2 separate regions of the Homo sapiens genome follow, and region 2 is linked to region 1. Evidence: fine-mapped expression QTL. A gene starts in region 1. The other region holds a variant in brackets. All regions are shown on one strand. Distances are between the middles of the regions. Region 1 holds the start of ITIH4 (inter-alpha-trypsin inhibitor heavy chain 4). Region 2 overlaps SFMBT1 (Scm like with four mbt domains 1).

Region 1 (9,359 bases):
CCAGGGCACTTTCTTTCAGGCTGAGTTATTGATGGACCACTTTCACGTAGGGGAGGGGTGTGATGAGCTCCCTGTTCCTGGAGCTGCGCAAGCAGAGGCTATTCCAGGATGTGTGCCATCCAACCATCTCCTTCTCTCCACCTGGCCCCAGGACCCTCACATCAGTCTATTATCCAGCCCCTTCCCAGACAGATCTCAGGGCTCATACGAGGACGCCATGGTCCTTCTCTAGGCTTTGCCCTCCCCATCTGCCAAATGACAGCAAGGATGCAGAGATCTCAGGAGCCTCTCCAGGTCACAGCTCACAGGAGGGAGAGCCCATCCTGCTTTCCAGAAATCCGGGCTCATAGGGCTGGCCTGAAGGCAGGGCCCTTGGTACCCTCACCTGCTGACCACAACAGGCCCACCTTGGTCTTATTCTGCCAGGTGGTGAGGGCGTCTACCAGCTGGTTGGTCATGAAGGTGCTCTCTGTCTCCAGAAAGCTGATGCCCTGGGGCTCGAAGATGTGAATGTCCATCTGGAGGCAAGATGTGGGTCCCTGGGTCAGCCAGGAGCCTGGGCTGGGGCTCACAGGAGGCTCAGGGACAAAGAGGGGCCGCCCTCAGCAGGGCAAGGGTCATGCAGGAGGCCTCCCTGGAAGAGGTAGCAGCAGGTACCTGCAGGTGCTTGACCAGCTGCTGGGGCCGCACTTTCAGCAGCAGCTCGTACACCCCCAAACGCCGCTTGAGCAGCTCCTCATAGACCAGCTCAAAGGTGATCTTGGCATTGGGAGCCACACTGACCGACACCTGGAACTGCTCCATGTTTCTCCCGGTGGCCCTGGGGGAGAAGGGCATCAGGCCTGCTCCTCCAGGACAGGTGGGGTAAGGCTGGTAGAGGTGGGAGCAGGACTAAGGGCCAAAGGCAAGGTGGCCTTTGTCTAGACCCTCCCCACTGAAGCTGCCCCCCACCAGCTCACTTGACGAGGCCAGCGCTCTTTCCCTTGGCCACTGCTGCGCTGTACTGTGCCTGGGCTTCAGCCTTCTCCTTGATGATCCCTGGGTAGGTCATGCCATCGATGATCCTGGGGGCAGAAGGGTGGGAGTTGTTGAGAGCCTGGTGGCAGGGGCCCATTCCACTCCTGCCTCCTCCAGAGAGCCTTTCTGGACTCGGTGTGCCTCTTGACACAGTGACTCCCATCTTTGCCTGAGCCCAGTGCCATTTATTATGCACCTACCGCATACAGGACCCTGTGCAGGGCACTCTGCAAAGTGCTCCAGGCCTCTAGCTCCCGGAGGTGTGTACAGTAACAGTAAGCATTCATTTTATAGAAGGGACGAAGGGGAGGCTGCAGAGGGGCAGGGCCGGGCTAAATCCTGCCTTCTCTCCACCTGTCCAGTCTGGCCGAAGCTGGCCCACATTCCCACCTGCCCCTTCCATTTCACGGACTGTTCCAGGGGAACTAGTTCATCACCAGCAAGAGCTCTCTGAGTCACACTTGTTCCCAGCCCTGCGTGCAGCCGTGTGGGGCCAGGACTGAGGAGGAAGCAGACGTAGGGCTGGAGGCTCTGAGCACTTTCCCCCTACAGCAGTCTCCCCGCTCCCTCCCACAAGAGGCAGGCACCCTATAGGGAGGCTGGCATATCTGGAAGGAGGTTTTGGACAACTGGTGGACGGGACTCCTGGGTGTGTGGACACACTCCTAGCAGCCATCCTTTGGGGGCTGAGAAAGAATGGCCCAGGCCATTTCTCAGGGAGGAAAACGACTTTTTCAGAGCCTCCTTGTGGGGTGTGTAGGGATGTGCCTGGTCAACTTCATGTGGTAGTGTGTGGCAGTGGGCAGGAGGGGGAGCAGCCAGGATGTCAGGACTACGCGTCCCTCCTGCCTGACCTTCCTGGTTATAATTTAACTCTAGCCCGGGATGGGGCTGGTGAGTGGGCAGTGGCACTCCTCCCCCTGGGTAGGCAGTGCTTCATCTCTCCAGATGGCCAGCTGGGGCTCCTGGCCAGGTCAGGGAGCAGGGAACCTGCTCTCTGCTCCCCTAACTCATGCAGCAACAGGTTCTGGGTCTAGAGAAGGCAAGTGACAGTCTTGGGCTCTCAGCAGATGCCACGGGCCTGGACCTGGCAACTGCTGACCCTGGCACCCATGTCGAAGGCTGACACAGCCCGTGGGGCTTGCACTGCAAGCTGGGCAGCATAGGCCCGGGCTCTGGGTTAGGAAAAGTAGAGGCTGCGGTGGAGTGGGGGATGCTTGGCGCCTGAGGGAGGAGACTAGCCCCCACTGCAGTTTTCCAGAGGCCACAGTGTGGGACCCCACATGAGACACTCCCTCTCTGCCCCACCATCGCCCTGTTTCTGGGAAGAGTCTTGCCCTTGTCCTAAATCACAGCTTTTCCTGGCAGCAAGGGACAGGCGGCATCCTGGTGCATTTAGTAAACATTGGAAACTGAGTTGGGAAGGGTAGGGGAGGGTGGCAGAGGACAAAGTGAGGACCATCCTTGGCTCATAGAATTCAGAGAAACCTCAGGCATCTCTCACGCAGCCTGAGCAAAAATGTCCTCTGCAGGATCCCAGCTGGGGCAGACCTAGGAGAATCCTCCTCAAGCCACTCTCCACTGTGAGGAAGCCAAGGGTCTAGAAGGTTTTCTGTACTTTGAGCTGGAATGTGCATTTTGGTGACTCCCTCTTGCCTGGTCTGGCCTCAGGAGGCCTCAAGTCTGTGCTCCTCAAAGGCAAAGTCACAAAGATTCTGTGGTTCTCTGCCTAACACCTGGACAGCACTTAGGGATGATGAATGGCTGGATGGAGGGAAGGACGGGGGCATCTTTGAGAATAAGTCCTTTGGCAAGCCCCTGTTCCTGTGTGGCCCCAGGTGCAGGGTGTACTCCTGAAGATGTACACCCTGGCATGCCTTACTTCAAGAAGAGGGTTTGCTGGCACAGAGCGATGGAGTCATAGCACTGGGGGGTGTGGAGAGGGGAGGAGGGTGGGAAGGCACCTACATGGAGAAGTTGGTGATGAAGGCTTTCTTGGGCAGCTCCATCTGGAAGGTGGCCTCCTGCACAGTATTGGCCCTATTGACCACTCGGCTGGTGACGACCGTGTGGGCAAATCGGGATGAGACCCTGGAGTCCACGGTGAGGCTGTAGATGTCGATGCCATTCTGGACCAGCAAAGAAGAAGGGGGTTGCAGGGTTTCAATGCCACCTCAGCTCGGGGTGACGCTCTTCAAGAGTTGGCCCTGACTCTGGCTCTAGACCAAACCCTGGCTCCCAATCTGACTGAGCCACTGACCAGGCCTCAGGCTGAACCCAGTGAGGCATCTCATATGTGAACATTTGTCTCAGGTAAGAGATAGCAGTGTGCTTCATTCCCCACCCTACAGCACCACAGGGCAGGGGCCACGTCCTTCTTGATCTATAGGGGCCCAGAGCACCCCTTGGAGAAGAACAAGCATGCAGGGGGTGGAGCTGGTGAAGCCAGGGCCAGTGTCTGGGAGGGGCATCACACTCAGCCTTTGGGCAGGGGTGAGAGACCTGGTGGGGTCAGGGAGCTTTGCATGCTGGCTTAGCTTTGCCCAGAAAAAGGGCAGTGACCAGGTCCTTTGATTTCTGGAGACTTTGGCCTCTGTGGCAACAGGGAAGCTCCCACCAGTCTCCTAGAAGGAAGCCCTCAGAGCTGGGAGAATTCGGAGGTAGACTAGAGTCTGGTCTCTGAGAGTTGGGAATCTTCCTCTCTGCTCCGCAGTGGACCCTCCCCAACTCATCCCCACTTCCGCAGGGCACTCCCCTAGCAGGTGCCATTTGCCTTGAGGTCTGTGTCCCCCGAGGAGGGGCACACGGGCACCTCTTACCTGCTTGTGTGTGACATGCTCATGCGCACTGCACCAACTCTGCTCGGCTGCATGCGGCTGCCTGAATGCAGTTTGGCACAGAGGTGCCAAGTGGCTTGTTTATGTGCTTGGGTATTTGCTCTGCGACAAGCACTGTCCTAAGCACTTCATAGATACAATGGGTTTGGTTTTCACAACAAGCACTGTCCTAAGCACTTTATAGATACAATGGGTTTGGTTTTCACAACCGCCACCCTCTGAATAGGTTCTAGTATTACCCTGTTTTACAGATGAGGAAATTGAGACATAGTCAGCATAAATCATTCTCCTGAGGTCACTTACTAAAAGGCGGTAGAGCCAGGCTTGTAAAACTGTATTTCCTCATTTGGAAAATGGAAATGATTGGATCATCCCCTCTATTAGGTGGGAGAATACCAGTAAGGCCCTTGGGGTAGTGCCTGGCGGGAGGTCTGCACCATTTTTTTGCACACACAGGGATGCACACGCACTTGTGCTGACACGCTGGCACATGCGGAGGCTCTTCCCCACTTCCCAGGCGTTCTCTCATCCCCCAGCTCACGCCACACCCATGGACACTGGCTACCTTTTCGGCAGTAGTAGTCTGGTGGATGGCCAGCAGTGAAAGCAGGACGAGAACTTTGCTGCAGGTACGGACAGGCCTTGGGGGCTTCATCGTGGCTCCAGTGTCTGCCAGGAGGCTTCTGAACTCGACAGCAAGTGGGGAATGGATTAGTAACTTGTTTGCTGCCCCACCCACATGGGGGCAGGTTCTGGGAAATTGGGATCTACAAGCCAAAAACCACAGTGACCTCAGATAAGCAAATGACGAACGTCCCATGGACCTTGGCTGGGGGCAGGAATGTATACCAAAGAAAGGTAGGCTCAGTTTGGAGTGGGGGTACATGCCCCTTCTGAAAAGTGCGAAACCTTCACCAGGACCCTTCACACCAGGCATTCCACCAAGCTCCACAGGGCTGGGAGGGAATTGACAGTGAAGATGTCAGTCTGCTCTCCCTAAGTCCAGCCCGGGGAGAAACAGCGGGGGATGGTGGGGAAGACTAGGGCTACAGGGCTACCCTAGCGGCTTCCCGGAAGAAGGGGGCTTGGCCACCAGGTAAGTGTGTCTGGCTGATGGGAGGGCCCAAAGGCATGGAGTGACTCTGGGAGGTGTCTGTGTGGGGCAGATCTAGAGTCAGGATAGATACGCCGTATTTCTGAAGTGAGAGGTGCTGGGCACGGGGCGCCTCCTTCTCTCTCCTGGGGTCCCAGGTTGCTGTTTGGGTGCCATTAATCTAGCCAGGGCTTTAGGTTCAACCCCAGCAAGGCCCCCAAAACAAGAATGGCAATACAACTGAGTCATAAACCTGCCACATCCTGTGGCACAGAGGTCTCCATGCGGGGAGTTTATTGACAGAAGAGCATGGAACAGAAGACAGACCTGACAGTGCCAGCAGCTCCTGAGGGGTGACTGGGGAGTCATTTGGTGGAGCAGAGGGAGCCCAGGAATCGCTGGTTGAGAGAGGGCAGAATGCTGTTGTCATGAGCAGTGTGATGCTGCCACAGCCCAGACCCAGGGGAGCGCTGCCCAAAGGCCTGGGGTGGGTCCCGGCCTTGCTAAAGTTGAAGCGCTCTGCTCCTTGTAAAGTGGGATCGAGTGAGTACATATTATGCGCTCTGGGCACCGCTGGGGCTCGTGTTCCCTGGTGGCTCTGGGGAAGCCAGCTCCTGAGTCTGTGGCCACAGATGGGTAAAGATGAGTCATAAAAGTGTGGCCAGATGCCAAGTCCTGGATCAGGGAAGGACGGCGGCTCCGTGACACCAGCCCTGAGGGGGCCAGCTGCCTTGGGAACCTATCGGGGGCCTTGGGGCAGCCAGTGGCTTCCAGAGGCTGGGGAGGGTTTCTCCACCAGTCCTGTCTCCATTAGAGGTGGCGGCAGGCCTGGGGCAAAGGTGCCATAGACTGGAGCTATTTCTACAGCTGCAAGGAAGACGTTCCCCTTCCTTAGCATGACTGGCCAGAAGCCTCATCTCTGCGCACGTCTCCACTGCTCACCCTTTTGGCTCTGGATACGATTGGGATTACACAGGGGAACACGCTCCTTTCAGTGTCTGGGGGAAGAGTCTCCCCATGGAGTCCAGCAAGTAGGACTGGGCCCTTCCTCACAGCAGGGCTGCTCCCTTGGGGCAGAGAGCACAGGCCCAGCCCGGACTCAGGGCTATATAAGGTGGCCAGGCTGGCCGGGACTGTGGGAAACGTTCTGGGCAGCCAGAACCTCCTGGGACAGGAAGGCATCCCCAGCAGGCATCAGCCCCGAGCCAGGCACCACAAGCCCAGGCTCTGCCAGTCCAGCTCCGAAAAGAGCCACTGTCAGCCTGTCCATGGTCATGGTCTTGCCATCACAACGGGACAGGCCTCTATGGGTCTTTTGAACCTGGCACTTCCAGGCACACAGGGGACAGAGGACTGGAGAGAGAAGGGTCATGCAGGCTGAGAATCTGGTGTTCCATGCCCCAGACAGCATGGTTGGAGCAGAATGTGGGAGTCTTACCCCTGCTGTTTGGAAGAGACGGTAGCTCAGGAAACTGACTGCCAGAGAGGAATCTCAATCTGGCTCTGACTTGGAGGGGACAAAAGCCGGGAGGAGGCAGTGTGAACAAAAGTGTAGGGAGGGAGAGGGGTTTTGAGGTCCCTAGTGCAGTGCAGGGAGAGGGGTTTTGAGGTCCCTAGTGCAGTGCAGGGAGAGGGGTTTTGAGGTCCCTAGTGCAGTGCAGGGAGAGGGGTTTTTGAGGTCCCTAGGTGCTGCAGAGCCTGCAGGTCCTCAGAGGCTTCTCAGCAGCTTCTGTGGAAGGCAGGAGGAGAGGTGGTCCCTGAGACCCCACCCACTTCACTCTGAGCAGTGTCATCATGGCCTGCTTTATGGAATAGACTCCAGCTCAACTCCCCTGTAGTATAAAAGGGGAAACTGAGGCTCAGAAAAGTCTGAAGTCACAGGTCAGCACTGAGTCTCCATGTCCAAGGCAGCATGTGGCAGTGCCCATAATAGCACCTGTGCTATCCCCTGGGATCCTCTTAAACGGACATGTTCCATGTTCCCACCCTGTCCTCCCTCTCAATAGTGGCCATAGCCAGGGACCAACCAACACCTTCTGATTGCTGGGGCCACGTGGGCATCCTCTTTATTGGTGCTTCCAAGGTGCTGGTGCAGAGCCCTTGGCTGAAGGGCCTGGACTGTGGGGGAGGGTGGCAGCCCCAGAGACAGCAGGGGAGAGGAAGCGTTCTGGCATAAAAAAGAGTTCCTGGGAAAGGCTCCTGTTTCCGAGCATTCGGGCAGCAAGGGGAGTGGCGCACACTTCTCAGCCGAAGACACTCTTGGTGGGTCCGGCTTTGGGCTTCTCAAAGACAGTCTCGGTACCTGTGCGGGTGCGGCTGAACACCGACGGGGCGGCCGAGCCAGCTTGCTCTGTGGGAGGAGGTAAAGTCAGGGGCCAGCCTAGCTTCCTGGGAGGGAAGATCCCTTACGATGGGAGCACCTTTCTTGAACCCAGGAATACTGGATTCTCAGAAAAGGATCCTTGACCACCTCCCCCCACCACTGACACACACCTGCACCCCCATCCCCAGCCCCAGATGGCATGAGGACACTCACCACACTCTCGCATGACCTGGTAGGTCTTGGACTTGATTTCCTGGTTCTTGGTCAGGTTTCCTCGGGCCCCCTTCAGGTCCTCGTCCTTCACAGGGGGGCGCTTCTTCTTGATAGGGGCTTCCTGAGCACCAGCCTTGGAGATCCAAGAGCCTCATCTTACTACCTGAAGCCTCGGTAGAAAGGCACACCTACCTCTGTGCCTTGGCCAAGACCCCTCTTCTCTGCTCATTAAACCCAAGCCTATTCAAGGCTCTACTCCTCTTCCAGAGAAAGCCTTCCCAACTATACTCCACCTGCTGCAGGTCTCCCAGCTGTCTTGGTCTGACTTGCCCATGTGCCTTTCCCCTATAGCCTGGGAGCTCTTGGGAGCAGTGGCTGCTGCAGCCTCACACTGGCGTGTCTGGCTACCTGGTCAAGCTCAGGACTGGGCACAGTGGGGAACAGCGAAGGGGACTAGCTCTGAGGTTGGGCAATACTAGGGAATTTGGTTAGTTCCAAAACCTGTTCACTGGGTGGCAAGCGGTTCCTCAAGGATTGCCCCCTTCCAGAAAAGCGCCACTATTTACTTTGTGTCTTTGGGGCTGGAAATGGGGTAGAAGGGCCAGATGCCCACAGAATTACAGTCCAAAATGGCCACCCACCCACAGAGCAGGCAGCAAGGACAGTCCTCTCTCTTGGCAGGCTGGTCTGTCCCTCCAGGGTGGGGGACACCCAGGCTCGGTGTTTACCCTACCCCTCAACCCCAGGCGCCTGTGAGTCTGAGACCTGCCTGTGCTTGGGTGCAGGTGCAGGTATTTCCTCGCTCAGCCTGGGCCAGGCTCCTCAGAGCAACACACTATACCCCTGTACAGCGATGCATCCAGCTGTGTCCCTCCAGCCTCATGTGCACACACATACAGCTTCATGCATATACCATACACAGAGACAGACAGACCTATGTGTGTGGCCACACACAGAGTGCATGGCTGCCGGGCCCATAGCTACAAATGCACAAAGCTCTACACACTGAGCTATATCGGCAGCACACACACAGATGCGCACACACACACACACACACACAGGCACATGCAAAGATCTATCTAGGCCCCCCCCACCCCCAACATTTCTCTCCACTCCTCCTAACAAACCGTGGAATACCACCAAAGCCACATAGAAGAGGGGTTCTTCAGGGGGTCCTCCCTGAGCCCCCATCTCCCAAGGGCTGCAGAGCCTCCAGTTCATGCTTGGGGCTCAGATCAAGACACAGCTGCCAGAGCCGAAAGTGTCCAGGACTCCACCTCCACTCCCTCTGGCATCAACACAGCCCTTGCTGGGTCCTCCTACCTGGGACATGGTGGGTATTGTGTAAGCGCTGGGTCTCTGAAGGCGCCTCTCTGGCAGGCAGCAGCTGCTGGAAAAGATCTGAGTGGAGCCCAGCCTTCTGAAACTTATATAGCCTGCTTGCTTGTCCCGCAGAGTCACTGCCCCTCCTCTGACAGGCTCCCTGATGATTCAGGTCCGCAGGGTCGCTGGCTTCAGAGTTTATTCTCGGAGATGAGAGGGGCTCCCAGTACTGCTGCCTGGGGGCTGCAGCCCTGATGAAAGCAGATGGCTGCAGAGACCCTTTGCCCTCTGGGACAGCTGCTTGATTCGCCGGGGGGAGGTGCTGGCACTGACGGACATGCTTTGTGTTTACGGATTTGGGTCCTGGAATGTGTGACCATCTGAATTGTTCCTCTGCAAGGGTTCATCCCAGTGTGTGGGGTGGGTGTGGGGTGTCCCTGAGGGAATGGAGGGCCCTAGCTGGGTTGGACTGCTCCAAGCTTGTTTTTCTTCCTCTTCCATCCCTTCCCCTGGATTCCAGTGGACAGATTTTCCATCCCTGCATGGTGGCAGA
Region 2 (9,359 bases), 170 kb after region 1:
GTTACTTTATAAAACACATAATCTTTATGTGCTAGCAGTAAATTTCTATACCTTTAAGGGATAATTCTAGGCTAATCAATTAGTATACCAACCTTCCCTATCCCCGACCCCATTCATTCACTTGGCCCTGACCATGCTAAGCATCTGCTACATATAACTCCTAGTAGGAGGTACAACTATGTAGAAACACTACAAAGTTACTGTGACAGTATTTAAAACAGATGCACTGACAGCCAAAAAAAAGGGGAAAAAAATCCCATACAAAAATTGTGAAAAGAGTTAAGATACAAAAGAAAAAAATAACAGTAAAATAGCAAGCGCTCAATATAATTTATGTCAATTTTGTAACTTTTCTTATTTATACACAAGATCAAGGAAAGAACAGAAAATCCTTTTATAACAATAAAACAGTGTAAGAGACAGAAGCATCGTAAGTCAAAGCTAAAAAAAAGCAACCAATTATTATATACTCATTACAAAATAATACACTGGGAAAAGGTCGAAACTGTAATTGGCTCTTATAAAGTAGTAATTCAGGATATATACAGTCTATGACTGTAAAGCACATCTTTATAATACAAGTAGAACACTTTCATACAGTTTCCAACAGAAGGGTTTATTCATAAGCCATTACTGCAGAGGAAAACAACAACAGACAAATCCTCAACCTGTTAATAAGTTCAAACTGTTTGCCAATTCAACTGGGAAATAATGCATTAGAAAAAATACCTACTTGTTAACAAAGTCATTGCATTTGTAACTAAAGAGATCACACACAACTGTGCCATCTGGTCACAAAACAGAAGATAAGGACAAGTTTCTTTTTATAAAAGTATTCCAGCTAATAAATGATGAAGGAATGACAGACTCTCTTATTAAATTACTGGACCTAGGTGTTGACCATCAATAACAGAGACACATCAATCACAAGAGACAACCTGAAACATCATGTGCCTCTTAATGGAAGAACACAACACCAACTATTGAACTATCTTTCAAAAAAAAAAATCAAACTTGAATCTGATTGAGCTTCTAAACACCACAGAGAAGTTAGAGGAACATGTTTGTTTGTTTTTTGAGACGGAGTCTCGCTCTGTGGCCCAGGCTGGAATGCAGTGGGGCCATCTTGGCTCACCACAATCTCCGCCTCCTGGATTCAAGCAATTCTCTGGCCTCAGCCTCCCAAGTAGCTGGGATTACAGGTGTGCACCATCACGCCCAGCTAATTTTTATATTTTTAGTAGAGATGGGGTTTCACTGTGTTGGCCGGGCTGGTCTCAAACTCCCGACCTCAGGTGATCTGCCCACCTTGGCTTCCCAAAGTGCTGGGATTACAGGCATGAGCCACTACGCCCCGCCTAGAGGAACATGTTAACCACCACAATGGTGAGCCAATCAGCAAAATCAAACTCTGGAAAACACCATTAAGACAAACTACCTGGTTTTATCAAACAAATTGGAAAGAAAAAAAGAGCAAGAAATTGAAAAGGACACTATAGGTTAAAAGAGATTTAAAATGAAATTTTAAAAACAATTTGAAAAAAATCTATTCACTGTAGCATCAAGAAAGAAAGAAAGAAAGAAAAGAAAGCAAGAAAAAAAAAAGGAAAAGGAAAGAAAAGGAAAAGAAAAGCCTGTACACTGAAACTGGAAAATATGGCTTAGTTAACTAAAAAAATACCTAAATAAATGGAGAGGCATACGATATTCACAGACTAAAAGATCCAAAGATGCCAAAGGTAATTCAATGGAAATGGAAAAAGGATAGTATTTTCAACAAATGGTACAGAAACAACTGGATATCCACATGGACAAAAATGAACCTCAACCTTACCTCATACCATACATAAAAACTCAAAATGGACCATAAACCTAAATGTAAGAGCCAATATTTTTTAATATCCAGAAAAAGAAAATAGAAAATCTTTCTGAGCTTGGACTGGCAAAGAATTTTTATTTTTATTTTGAGGCAGGGTCTTGCTCTGTCGCCAAGTTTGGAATGCAATGGGCACGATCACTGCTCACTGCAGCCTTGACCTCCTGGGCTCAAATAATCCTCCCATTCTCAGCCTACCAAGTAGCTAGGACTACAGGCATATGCCACCATGCCTTGCTAACTTTGTTTATGTTTTGTAGAGAAGTGGTCGAAGTGGTCTCACTATGCTGCCAGGCTGGTCTCAAACTCCTAAACTCAAGTGATCCTTCTGCCTCAGCCTCCCAAAGTGCTGGGATTACAAGTGTGAGCTATTGCACCCAGCCTGGCAAATAACTTTAAAACATGACACCAGAAAAAGCACAAACAATAAATTGGGACTGTATCAAAGTTTAAAACGTTTGCTCTTCAGGCCAGGTGCCACCCCCCAGCTCACGCCTATAATCTTAGCACTTTGGGAGGCTGAGGCGGGTGGATCACCTCAGGTCAGGAGTTCGAGACCAGCCTGGCCAACATGGTGAAACCCCGTCTCTACTAAAAATACAAAAATTAGCCAGGACAGTGGTATGTGCCTGTAGTCCCAGTTACTTAGGAGGCTGAGGCAGAAGAATCACTTGAACCCGGGAGGCGGAGGTTGCAGTGAGCCAAGATCACACCACTACACTCTAGCCTGGGCAACAGGGTGAGACTCCATCTCAAAAAAAAACAAAACTTTTGCTCTTCAAAGACACAATGAAGAAAAAAGACAAGCCAGAGGCTTAAAAAGAAATTTTTTTGCAAAACATATACCTAATATGGATTTATATCAAAAAGCTCTTAAAAATAAACAATCCTTTTTTTTTTTTTTTTTTTTTTTGAGACAGGGTCTCCCTCTGGTCACTGGGCTGCAGTGCAGTAGCACCATCTTGGCTCACTGCAGCCTCAACCTCCTGGGTTCAAGTGATCCTCCTGCCTCAGACCTGCCAAGTAGCTGGGACTACAGGCGCACGCCACCACACCCAGCTAATTTTTGTATTTTTTTAGTAGAGACAGAGTTTCACCTATTACCCAGGCTGGTCTCGAGTTCCTGAGCTCAAGCGATCTGCCCACCTCAGCCTCCCAAATGCTAGGATTATAGGCATGAGGCACCACACCCGGACAATAATCCAATTTTTCAATCAAAAGATTTGAATAGGTACTTCAGCAAAGAAAATATATGAATGGCAAGCACATGAAAAGATAATTAGTCACTAGGGAAATACAAATTAAAACCACTATGAAGTATCATTACACACCAACTAAAATGGCTAAAATACGAACAATAGGAAATTTAATAAGGATGGAGAAGTGAGTCCTCATACAATGCTGGTGCAAATGTAAAAATGGTACAGCCACTTTGAAAATGGTTTGGCAATTTCTTAAAAAGCTAAACACAGGCCGGGCACGGTGGCTCACGCCTGTAATCCCAGCACTTTGGGAGGCAGAGATGGGCAGATCATGAGGTCAGGAGATTGAGACCATCCTGGCTAAAACGGTGAAACCCCATCTCTACTAAAAATACAAAAAATTAGCCGGGCGTAGTGGCGGTCGCCTGCAGTCCCAGCTACTCCGGAGGCTGAGGCAGAAGAATAGCTTGAACCTGGGAGGCGGAGCCTGCAGTGAGCCGAGATCGCACCACTGCACTCCAGCCTGGGCGACTGAGCGAGACTCAGTCTCAAAAAAAAACAAAAACAAAAACAAAAAAAAAGCTAAACATAGACTTATCATACAACCAAGCAATTCCACTCTTGAGGATCACCAAAAAGAAATGAAAACAGCCACACAAAGACTTTACTTGTGTTCACTGCCAAGAACTAGAAATAACCCAAATGTCCATCAACTAGTGAATGGATAAACAAAACGTTTTACCTATTTATACAATGGAATTATTCTCCCAGCACTTTGGGAGGCCGAGGGGGGCGGATCACGAGGTCAGGAGATCGGTACCATCCTGGCTAACACTGTGAAACCCGTCTCTACTAAAAACACAAAAAATTAGTCTGATGTGGTGGCAGGCACCTGTAGTCCCAGCTACTCGGGAGGCTGAGGCAGGAGAATGGCGTGAACCCAGAAGGCGGAGCTTGTAGTGAGCCGAGATCATGCCACTGCACTCCAGCCTGGGTGACAGAGCGAGAGTCCATCTCAAAAAAAAAAAGAAAAGGAATTATTCTCAGCAATAAAAACAAACTACTGATACATGCAATAACAAGGATAAATCTCAAAAACTTCATGCTATATGAAACATGCCAGACACAAAAGACTACATATTGGATGATTCTATTTATGTGAAATTTCTAGAAAAGGCAAAATTGTATAGAAAATACATCAGTGGTTTCCCAGAATCAGGATGCATTGTCTGTAAATGACCACATTTTGGGGGTAATAAAATGTTCTAAAACTAAATGGTGATGATGGTTGCATAACTCTATACAATTACTAAAATTCATCAAGTAGGTCACTTACAATATAAAACATGCTTCAATAAAACATTGTTTAAAAAAAGAGAGAAGATAACACAACGTGTTGGTCAATTGGATCCTTTAAACAATATTTTTTAAATTTATTTTTGTTATTGTAAAATACACATAAAATTTACCATTCTAATCACCTTAGATGTATAGTTCTGTGGCATTAAGGACATTCACAATGTTGTACAAGAAAATTTTTTAAATTACAGCATGTATAACAATGGGAACTGAGCTCTGCATAAATTCTAGTGTTCATAAGAAAAAATGTAGATCAGGTCGGGCACGGTGGCTCACGCCTGTAATCCCAGCACTTTGGGAGGCCAAGACGGGCAGATCACGAGGCCAACACGGAGAAACCCCGTCTCTACTAAAAATACAAAAAATTTGCCGGGCGTGGTGGCGGGCGCCTGTAGTCCCAGCTACTCCGGAGGCTGAGGCAGGAGAATGGCATGAACCCAGGAGGTGAAGCTTGCGGTGAGCCGAGATCGCGCCACTGCACTCTAGCCTGGGTGACAGAGAGAGACTCCGTCTCAAAAAAAAGAAAAGAAAAGAAAAAATGTAGATCAATAATATTATTTTGCTGACGCATTGGAGAAAGTAAAGGCTGGGTGCAGCTTCAAGCTGAGGACCACCCACCATGCCCCCATCATGGTGGTTCCCCTAGGTGCTGAAGGGCCCAGCCATAGCTCTCGCCCTC[G/A]CAGGGTCCCTCCAGGGTCTCTGCTGTTTCCTACCTAGGGGTGACTGCAGCCATGGCTAAGAAAGCGCCAGCGCCCACCCACCTGGGCCAATGGACTGGTTCTGCTCGTGCCACGCTGGTTCTGCTCCTCGCCATCTCGGCAGTTCAGAAAGAACCCCAACGAGCTTGTGATCTCCCGGGTCCTGTGGGCGTATCAACAGGGGGCCAGCCCTGTCCCTCAACCCTGGGGAGCTGGTGCTGCCGATCGACCTGACTGGCCCACAACGTCTTCAGCTACCACTGCAAGGGCCTGCGGGGTGACGGCTGTGCAGCGCTGCTCGCCTAGCTGTTGATCGCCTGGCTGTTGATGGGCTGGCACCCGCAGAGCTGCCCTGCCGGCCACCGACCACCATGGAGGGAGCATTCAGCTGGTGCGCGAGCTGGGTACTAAACTGGCTCTACTGTGAGCCGCCCTCGGCCCCTCCATCTCCTCTTACCCCTTGTCATCCATGCGTAAGCCGGGGACGCCCGAGGACATGCTCTTCACCCAAGGCCTGCGCCGGCGTCTGCTGATCAAGGGCCCAGTACAAAGGCCGTCATGGAGATCCAGGCCTTCGCCAACAGCGGCCTGTTCTGGTGCAAGGGCCAGCCGGGCAGCCCAAGGACCTCACGACTGGCTGCTGGGTCAAGGCGTTCCCGGGGTGAAGGTGGATAAGCAGACCACCAAGGGCTCCTGGAACCCTACGTGAAGGAGGCCAAGCACAGCCGTGGACACCGGCCTGAAGGCTGGGAAAGGAGCCGACGCCCCACCTCCTCTGACCAGGCCTGCGGGGAGGAGCCACCCACGCGCCACAGCAAGTCCTGGACCTGGCCCTGCATTCCAGGGTGGGGCAGGGAGGCTGGATTCTGAGAGAGCTGCTTCCGGATTGCGTTGGGGTAGTCAAGGAGCTCGGGACATCGCAGGGGAGGCAAAAAGCCTTGGCCAGTGCTCTTTTGGTGTATCCCTTCAGCTTCCAGAGGGGAAGCCACACCCTGATGCTATGTTCAAACGCTCCAGAAGACAGGAGTTCGTGTCCTTGCCCCTAACCACTGCTGTGGATGTCACTGGCCAAAGGTCATGAGGGGAGTGGGCCACATGAGTGGCCACTTGCCATGACTCCCTGAGCAGGGTGAGCCCCCACTCATCCTGTGCCATGTTATGTTTCCACCCAAGCAGCAGGGTAGGAGGCACAATGAGTGCCCATTCCTCTCCCTGATGGGCCCCCCAAGCTCTACAGACCAAGCAAGGAGACCCCATGACCCATGGCATGAAATCATCTTGAAGTTTTTGCTTTTTTTTTGGAGACAGAGTATCGCTCTGTCGCCCAGGCTGGAATGCAGTGGCACAATCTCGGCTCACTGCAACCTCTGCCTCCCGGGTTCAAGCAATTCTCCTGCCTCAGCCTCATGAGTAGTTGGGACTACAGGCATGTGCCACCACATCAGCCCGGCTAATTTTTTGTATTTTTAGTAGAGACAGGGTTTCACCGTGTTAGCCAGGATGGTCTTGATTTCCTGACCTCGTGATCCGCCCACCCCGGCCTCCCAAAGTGCTGGGATTACAGGCGTGAGCCACCGCACCCAGCCTACTCTTACATTTTTTTAGGTTTTTATTTACTCACTGCTTTAAGCATACACGACACTTCGGTTTTATTCCTCCCTTTGTAATGTTTTTTCTCTTAAGCCACTTTTTTTTTTTTTTGCAATGCCTTCCTCTTTGAAAGCATTAAAAAAACAGTATTTTGTTTATGTTTCAACAACAACAAAGAGGACTTAATGTCTGGCACACTAAAATATTTACCAATAAAACAAACTGATATTTGGAATTTTTTTAAGTTTTAAAAGTGTGGTCACTGTATTGTGATCACACAATTACATTAGGAAAATGTCTTATTCTTAGAGATGTACATTAAAGTATTAAGAGTACTGAGTTATAATGTCTGCAATAGAGCCTCAAATGTTTCACAGGGGACTATATAAATACATATATATGCCTATATATACATATATTACATATATACACATATATAAAAGACAAAGAGAGAAAGCAAACAGTGATTCTAGGTGAAAGACAAAGTGAGAACTCAGCAAAAACGTAAATTAGTACAGGTTTGTTGGAAAGCAATGTGATGACATCTCAAAATTGGAAGAAATTTACAAAAACTAAAACATGCCTAATGCATGTCCTTTGACCCAACACCCCTTCTAGGAATTTATCTTTAAAAAACTCACACAAGACCACAAAGCAAGAAAGGGTATTAATTACAAAAATTTTTTAATGGTTTAATACTCAAATATCTACCAATAGGTGGTTAGGTAAATAAGTTATTGCAAATGCTTAAAATGAAAAAAAATATATGAAAAGAAGAAAGGGGTGTGGGTACAGATGAAACCGCATTGGCTGTGAGTTTATTACAGAAGCAATCTTTGAATAATGGATATTTGGATGTTCATCTCACTGTTTAGTCTACTTTTATATATGTTTGACATTCTCCCTAACAAGTCAAAAACAAAAAAGAACCACACAAAATTCCAAGGGCACAATTCTTTACAAGTGGTCATCGACCCCCTTTCTTTCCCAAATTAATAATATCAACATGGGAGGGAAGGTTCTACACTACATAAACAAGTACACATAAATATTAAAGTTCTTTCAGCCTGGGCAACATAGTGAGACCCTGTCTCTTAAAAAAAGATTTTCTTTTAGTTAGCTAGGTGTGGTGATTCACATCTGCAGTCCTAGCTACTAGAGAGACTGAGACAGAAGGACTGCTTGAGCTCAGGAGTTCAAGGCTGCAGTGAGCCATGATCGTGTGTCACTTTAGCTTGCATGACAGAGTGAGACTCCAACTCTTCAAAAAAGAAAAAGTTCCATCACTCTTAATTATTCTTACATCCTCAGGTCATCCCTGAACAGAAGAGTTTTGCTTTCAAGCATCTTGGATCCAGTAGTAAGTAGATGGCAGCTCACATTTACTGTGCTCCCACCAGCAAGCAGCTCTTCATTTCTAATAGCTCTAGCTAAGGAAAGAAACAAGTGTAGAAAAAGCCAGGCACAGTGGCCGCGCCTGTAAATTTTAGCACTTTAGAAGGCCAAACAAAGCAGGAGGACCACTTGAGCCCAGGAGTTTGAGACCAGCCTGGACAACATAGGGAAATGGGAGATCCTATCTCTACCAAAAAAAAAAAAAATTGTAAAAAATTTGCCAGGCATGGTGGCTCATGACTGTGGTCCCAACTACCTGGGAGGCTGAGGCTGGAGGATATGTAGGCCCAGGAGGTCAAGGCTGCAGTGAGCACTGATCCTGCCACCGCATTCCGGCCTGGGCAACAGAGCAAGACCCAGTCTCTCACACACACACACACACACACACACACACACACACACACACACACACATAAATGAAAGATTACTGCCTGTTTTGAACTTTGTTTTCTATGGAGTTGTTCAGCTTTTCCTATTAGAAGTTCAAATATGTGTACTACATATTGTGCCATTTCTGAATTATAACAAAAGCAAGAGAGCTTAGAAATCATCCAGCCCAGTTGGCCGCAGTGGCTCACGCCTGTAATCCCAGCACTTTGGGAGGCCGAGGCAGGTGGATCACGGGGTTAGGAGATCGAGACCATCCTGGCTAACACGGCGAAACCTGTCTCTACTAAAAATACAAAAAATTAGCCGGGCGTGGTGGCGGGCACCTGTAGTCCCAGCTACTTGGGAGGCTGAGGCAGGAGAATGGCGTGAACCCGGGAGGCGAAGCTTGCAGTGAGCCAAGATCGCACCACTGCACTCCAGCCTGGGTGACAGAGCGAGACTCCGTCTCAATAAAAAAAAAAAAAAAAAAAGAAATCACCCAGCCCAGTATCTTGAATTAACAAATAAGCAAAACTATCCAGGCCCAAAGTTATTATTTCAAATTATAATAACTTCAGTATTCTCTAGTTAGGAGGTATTCTCCTCAGTTTAATTTGAATAAACTAAGTGCTCACTGAACACCTGCCACAGTGAACTGTAATGAATAACGAGCAAAAGTTGGAAGTCTGTCTTGAGGGTGCTAAACTCACAGTCCAAGGCCACTGACTACCATCCAAAACCCTACAGTCATTGGGCTCAAGAGCCCACAAACTCAACACCTGCTCAGCACCAGCCTGCTTAAACTTGAAGCAGGAATTTTCAAAACAGCCTCCTCTTTCTTTCAGCAAGTCATATGATATTCATTAACTT

The links. PIP is the estimated chance that this variant, and not a neighbour inherited with it, causes the effect.
Region 2: its variant is the best candidate, but not a certain one, in a credible set for the expression of ITIH4 in tibial nerve (GTEx, PIP 0.57).

The regions. Positions count from the first base shown.
Region 1 is chr3:52,826,134-52,835,492 of GRCh38, forward strand. It overlaps ITIH4 (inter-alpha-trypsin inhibitor heavy chain 4), which reads right to left and starts at 4,539. Exons shown (of 24, transcript NM_002218.5): 1 at 4,420-4,539; 2 at 2,986-3,146; 3 at 960-1,064; 4 at 658-820; 5 at 408-518. The coding sequence starts at 4,509. STIMATE-MUSTN1 (STIMATE-MUSTN1 readthrough) reads right to left here. Exons shown (of 10, transcript NM_001198974.3): 9 at 7,484-7,616; 10 at 6,988-7,297. The coding sequence ends at 7,191. MUSTN1 (musculoskeletal, embryonic nuclear protein 1) reads right to left here and starts at 8,886. Exons shown (of 3, transcript NM_205853.4): 1 at 8,807-8,886; 2 at 7,484-7,616; 3 at 6,988-7,297. The coding sequence starts at 8,815. The coding sequence ends at 7,191. RefSeq lists enhancers at 1,283-1,891, 1,892-2,499.
Region 2 is chr3:52,993,441-53,002,799 of GRCh38, forward strand. The region is part of intron 1 of SFMBT1 (Scm like with four mbt domains 1); the gene reads right to left. Among named protein-coding and RNA genes, the nearest start is that of SFMBT1, 48 kb to the right of the region's middle. RefSeq lists an enhancer at 5,084-5,584 and a silencer at 6,467-6,710. The variant G/A (reference allele first, on the strand shown) is at 5,117.